Linked DNA regions of Homo sapiens: region 1 is linked to region 2. A link means that fine-mapping ties the variant in region 2 to the expression of a gene that starts in the linked region. Tissue or cell type: whole blood. Region 2 holds a variant in brackets; the other region holds the start of a gene. All regions are shown on one strand. Distances are from middle to middle.

Evidence for each region. PIP is the estimated chance that this variant, and not a neighbour inherited with it, causes the effect.
Region 1: it holds the start of KIAA0040, and the variant in region 2 is fine-mapped to the expression of KIAA0040 in whole blood (INTERVAL, PIP 0.98).

Annotation. Positions count from the first base shown.
Region 1 is chr1:175,191,413-175,194,174 of GRCh38, reverse strand. KIAA0040 reads left to right here and starts at 1,399. Exons shown (of 4, transcript NM_014656.3): 1 at 1,399-1,535. RefSeq lists enhancers at 737-846, 1,567-1,716, 1,957-2,006, 2,147-2,196.
Region 2 is chr1:175,304,421-175,307,182 of GRCh38, reverse strand. All of the region lies in intron 1 of LOC105371623 (a long non-coding RNA gene), which reads right to left. Among named protein-coding and RNA genes, the nearest start is that of KIAA0040, 110 kb to the right of the region's middle. The variant T/C (reference allele first, on the strand shown) is at 1,341.

The sequences.
Region 1 (2,762 bases), 110 kb after region 2:
TTCTCCCGGCTTGTGAATCTAGTCTTCCTCTGTAAAAAATAAATAAATAAATAAATAAATAACTTATTTTCCTCTTTTTCTAGCCATTTTTGGCGTTTCAGGCTGGATGGTGGGTTTTCTCTTTGGCCTTTCAACTCAGAGCCACGTGGTTTCTCCTGAATAAACAGAAAGGAATCTCTTGAATCTCAGTTGTGACAGTTGGTTGCAGCAGTCATTTTAATGCCCACTTGGAGAAGCCAAAGGACACCCATACTCAGGCACAGTCGATGGAGGGCAAGTCCTGGTTCAGCACCTGGCACCTGGTACCTGTGTACCTGGCAAATACAGTCGAGGGAACAGCATTTCAGGCCCTTGTCAGGGAGGACCTCCCAGGATGACACTGAGGAGGCCCCTGAAATGATCCACAGCCAGGTCCTGGCATCCCCCTCTTTTCCCACCCACAGTATCCCTGGAGGCACTGAACAAGCTCTGAATCATCAGAGCTTTGTGTCTGGAGTCCCCTATTCAAAGGGGCGCAGGTCTTTTCATTTCCTAGCATCCCATGTGCTCGGAACTAGAGCCAAGAGATCTGAATAGAAAGTAGATGGAGAGCAGCTGAGGATGAGAGGGAAGAACCCCTGAGAACTTTTTGAAGTCAGCTTTCCCCTCCGTCATTTGCTTGTGACAGACAGCTCCTGGGGCGCAGTTTTCCTTAGCGCCTCCAGGCAGCAGAGACAAAGACTCTTCTGAGATGTCACCTGCACCCCTTGGAGCAACCGGCGTTGGCTAGAGGGGACTGTCATGCTCATTTGTCCCGATAAGACATCGGAGCCTTCACCCAACCTGCCGCATGGTATCCCTCTCCAACGCCTCCCACCCCTTCCAGGAAGGCCCTCTATTTAGGCAGCTGTTTTCCCTGAAGCCGGGTTTGCCCGGAGTTCTGTGTCCCATTCCTGGAACACTGGTGCGTCTGTGAGAGACACCGGGGCTGGCTCCGCAGCCGCTGTGTCCTGAAGGAGGCGTGTTCCGGGACTGAGGGGGCAAGGACACGTAATGGCGGGGGGCGGGGAGTGGGGAGCCACCGGCGGGAAGACGGGGAGGGAGGGCGCGTCTGGGGCGTGTGCGCCCAAGGCCAGAGGCACCCGAGGTGGGCTGGCCCAGGGTGGAAAGCCTGGGCCGAGCCCCTGGAGCGGGCGGAACGGCGAGCCAGATTCAGGAAGTTGTGCCTGTGACATCAGGGGCAGGACAGAGTTGGAGCGAAACCTCAACTATGCCAGGCGTCGGCCCGTAGGAAGGCAGGGAACACAGAGGGCGCTGCCCTCGGCGGCAGCGGCAGGTACGCGCGGGGGTGGAGCGGGGCGGGGCGGGGCGGGGCGGGCGGCTCCCACGACCTTGGCCGGCGCCGGGGCCCTACACGCCAGACCTGGCTCGGGGTGGGAGTGCAGAGGCAACCAAAAAGGAACCCACACCTCCCTCCAGGGCCCGGGGCGCTGTCAGACGGGGCAGCAACCAGGAGATTCCCTGGGCCTGCAGGAAGCCCTTCCGCGGACCGAAAGGTGAGTTTCAGGACTTTCTGTTATGTTTTTTAAAAATACATTTTTAAGCGCCCTCTGTTTGGAAGAAGACGCCCAGTCACTCCTGTCTTTAGAAGGATGAGACCTGCCCCAGAGATACAAGGAATTATTCCTAAGTAGCCTCTTGCGCCTTCACAACTTTAGTTCTGGTGTGTTTCCCTCCTTCGCGAGGACTCTCAGGAGTCTTCCTCTCTGCGCCTGGGCTGAGTCCACATGAACTCCTCGGAGGTCGGCGGTGGAGTTACCTTACTCCAGCTGCCGGTAGGAGCGCTTTGAAGGGGACACATGGAAATTCTGTTTTTTACTGAGAAAGCTAAGGCCTGAGACCCTCCGGAAAGCATCGCGGGCTTAGGTGTTTCTAAACCATTCTAGGTGAAGCCAGATTTTCTCTGGAGCTAAGGAACTAGCCAAAACGAAAATATGGCGTGGAGCCAGGGGCGGAGAGGAAACCTGTTTGCTATTCTGAGAGTTTCCAGGGAGCTTGCTGTGACACAGATTACTTCCTAACTTCTTTGACTCTCAGTGGTCCCACCCCCAGACCCCCCATCCCACCCATGAAGGTAGAGTGGGGGACATAATAGGACCTGTTTCCCTAACATTCTGAAGAGCTTTACGGGATTCATCATATGATAATAGAGTTAAGTAAACTATAGATGATAGCTAGTGGGAAGACCAGTCCTGCCTAACCGAAAGGGAAACTGAAGCACAGACAAGCACTCACCCTAATTTAACAGAACACCGGCAGCCAGCATGCCATGCTACTTAGCGGGATTGTGCCACCGATTGCGTTATACGAGGAAGGGAAGGAAAAGACCACTGGAGCATCTTGGAAGCTCCTCCCTTCTAAAGCAGTTGCATTTCATTTGCTCAGCTACAGCTCATAAGGACCTGAAGCTAATTTTAAGGAACCCTCATTCTGAAGTTCTGTTAGATAATGGGAGAGCCTTGAGTTACAAAGAGCAGGACTTAAACATAGCATTGATGCAACCTGTTCCTAACCCTTTTGCAAATGGTTTGCAAGTTCTATCTAAAGACTTCTGCAAGCGTCTTACCAGCCTTTAAACTGGTTCAGTTGCATCAACCACTTAGTCTGATGTGCCTGCCCTTCACCCAGTGCTGGGCTGGAGAGGCAGCTGTACAGGAAAATCTGACCAAGTCTTTCCTTTTGTCTGAAATTCTGCCTCTCTGTCCCCATCCCAGATACAATTT
Region 2 (2,762 bases):
CATGTCCTTCAATGCATCTCCACTGAGCCACCTAAGTACTCCTGACCTAGGGCCTTTGTTTACTGTACCATTCACTTGTTCATTCATGCATGCAAGCATTCATTCATTCAATAAAGATTCCAGAACACACTCTGCCTCTTACTGGTTGTGTGCCCTGGGGTAAGTCCTTTTGTCACTTTGAAGCTCAGTGTCCTTATCTGTAAAATGGTATAAAGAATAACTGCCTTTCCAAGTGAAGGTGAGGAGCAGGCCATGATGAAGAACCAGAGTGGCTGAAGCACAGATGGGTGGGGATGGGTAACACAGGTGCAGCTGGGAAGGACGGCAGGACCTAATCAGACAGGGCCCTGCAAGCCATGCTTGAATCTTCATCGATTATAAGAGTGGTGGGGCTGGGCACGATGGCTCATGCCTGTAATCCAAGCACTTTGGGAGGCCGAGGCAGGTGGATCACAAGGTCAGGAGATCGAGACCACCCTGGCCAACATGGTGAAACCCTGTCTGTACTAAAATACAAAAAATTAGCCAGGCATGGGGGCACACACCTGTAATCCCAGCTACTCAGGAGGCTGAGGCACAGGAATTGCTTGAACCCGGGAGGCGAAGGTTGCAGTGAGCTGAGATTGCACCACTGCATTCCAGCCTGACGACAGAGTGAGACTCCATCTCAAACAAACAAACAAAAAAAAATAGTGGTGGGAAGCCATCGGAGGTGCCCAAGCAGGAGAGTGAGATGATCATGTTTGCATTTAAGAGAGTTGGCTGTGGCTATTGTGTAAATGGTGAAGGGGTACACAAGATTTGGGGGGAAATCAGGAATGGTTCAGATGAGAAATTAGGATAAGTTGAACTCAGGTGGTTTTAGTAGAGCTGGGAAAATATATATCCTCAAGAGATATTTAGGAATTAAATGGACAGAACCAAACATGTGGATGAGGAAGTTATAATGATGGTGTATAGAACTCTGGACAGCCTGACTGGGTAGGTGGTGGCTGCCCAGCTAAGGAAGAGACACTGGGTGAGAGCCAAAAACAGGAACTCCATTTGGAGCATCAGCTAGAGATGCCTTCAGATATCCAGGCAAAAGAGACTGGCAGCTGCATGTGTAGGACTAAAATTCAAAGGAGTGGCCCAAGCCAGAGATACCTGGGGATCACATACATGGCCAACTTCATGGGCTTGTGACCTGCACAGTCACAGAGGGCCTTATGCTAGAAATGTCCCATGTGTGATTTAACACTTTGTTGTCAGCACTTGAAGTTTTTGATCAAGAAACTCCCACATTTTTATTTTGCACCGGGCCCCCACAAATTATGTAGGTGGTCCTTAATATTTCATAA[T/C]ATCAATAAGATACTGACCACAATGGAAGCTACAGGCATGAATTCATTTGTTCATTCAACAAATACACTCCAGGCATTCTTCTATGCACTGGTGAAATAGCAGACGACAAAAGAGACAAAAATATCTGTCCTCACAGACTCTATACAATAGTGGATGAAGAAAACAAACAAATGAAATAAACTAGTACAATAAATACTATGTGAGATGGTGGTAAACCTCAGAAGGTAAATAAATAAACACAGAGAGCGGATTAGTCTGCTAGAGCTGCCATAAAAAATACCGTAAACAGCAGTGGCTTAAGCAACAGAAATGTATTCTCTCACTGTTCTGGAGACTGGAAGCACAAGATGAAGGTACCAGCAAATTCTGTTTCTCTCTTCCTGGCTTGCAGACGACTGCCTTCTTGCTGTGTGCTCACGTGGCCTTTCTCTGTGCAGGTGGACAGAGCGAGTGTTCTGGTGTATCTTCTTATAAGGACATGAATCCTACTGGATCAGGGCTCCAACCTTAGGACTTCATTTAACCTTAATGATCTCCTTAAAGATCTTGTCTCCAAGTACAGTCACATTGGGAGTTAGGATTTCAACATGTGAATTTTGGAGGACACAGTTCGGTTGGTCTCAGAGGATGGGGAGTGTTGGGGGCAAAGGAGTAGAGCAGAGACTGTTAGCTCTACCCCAGGTCACCTGTAGCTTTTGTGGGTAGTTCTCATTTATGCCAATGGAATTTCACCTCAAGCTTCAATGTTTTTCTATGGAAACGTTATGGAATGACTGTCCCTAGGAGTGATTCTCAAATAATTCGAGAAAGCAGGTGATGGATATACCCCAGCTTCCTTGCTCCTGAGCAAGACAGTTCTGAGATGTGCTCTACCTAGTTTCTCAGAGGGTCTCCCACAGTTGTGACACCTCCAACTGACTTTCACCCCTTCCCTTTTCCACTTCCCTATGACCTCACTATGCTTCAGTAAATATATATATATGTGTGTGTGTGTATATACATATACATATGTGTGTGTATATATATATGCATATATATATACATATGTGTGAAAGTCAATCAGAGGTGTCACAATGTTTGAATAACGTCCCAAGAAGGCGGGGAGCAAGTCACAGGGACATCTGGAGCTGAAGTGTTCCAGACAGAAAGAACAGCAAGTGCAAAGACCTCAGAGTTCTAGGCGCACCAGTGAAGCTGGTACAGAGAGACTGGAATAGAGCAGCAGGAAATGTGATTAGCTGGGTAAAATGTGAGGCTACATTGTAGAGTAGTGCTGGCCAATAGAAATAGAATGTGAGCCACAGATAGGATTCTAAACTTTCTAGTAGCCACACTTAAAAAAGAAACAGGTAAAGTAGATTTAATAATATATTTAGTCAATATATCCAAAATACTATTTTTTCAACATGTAATCAATATAA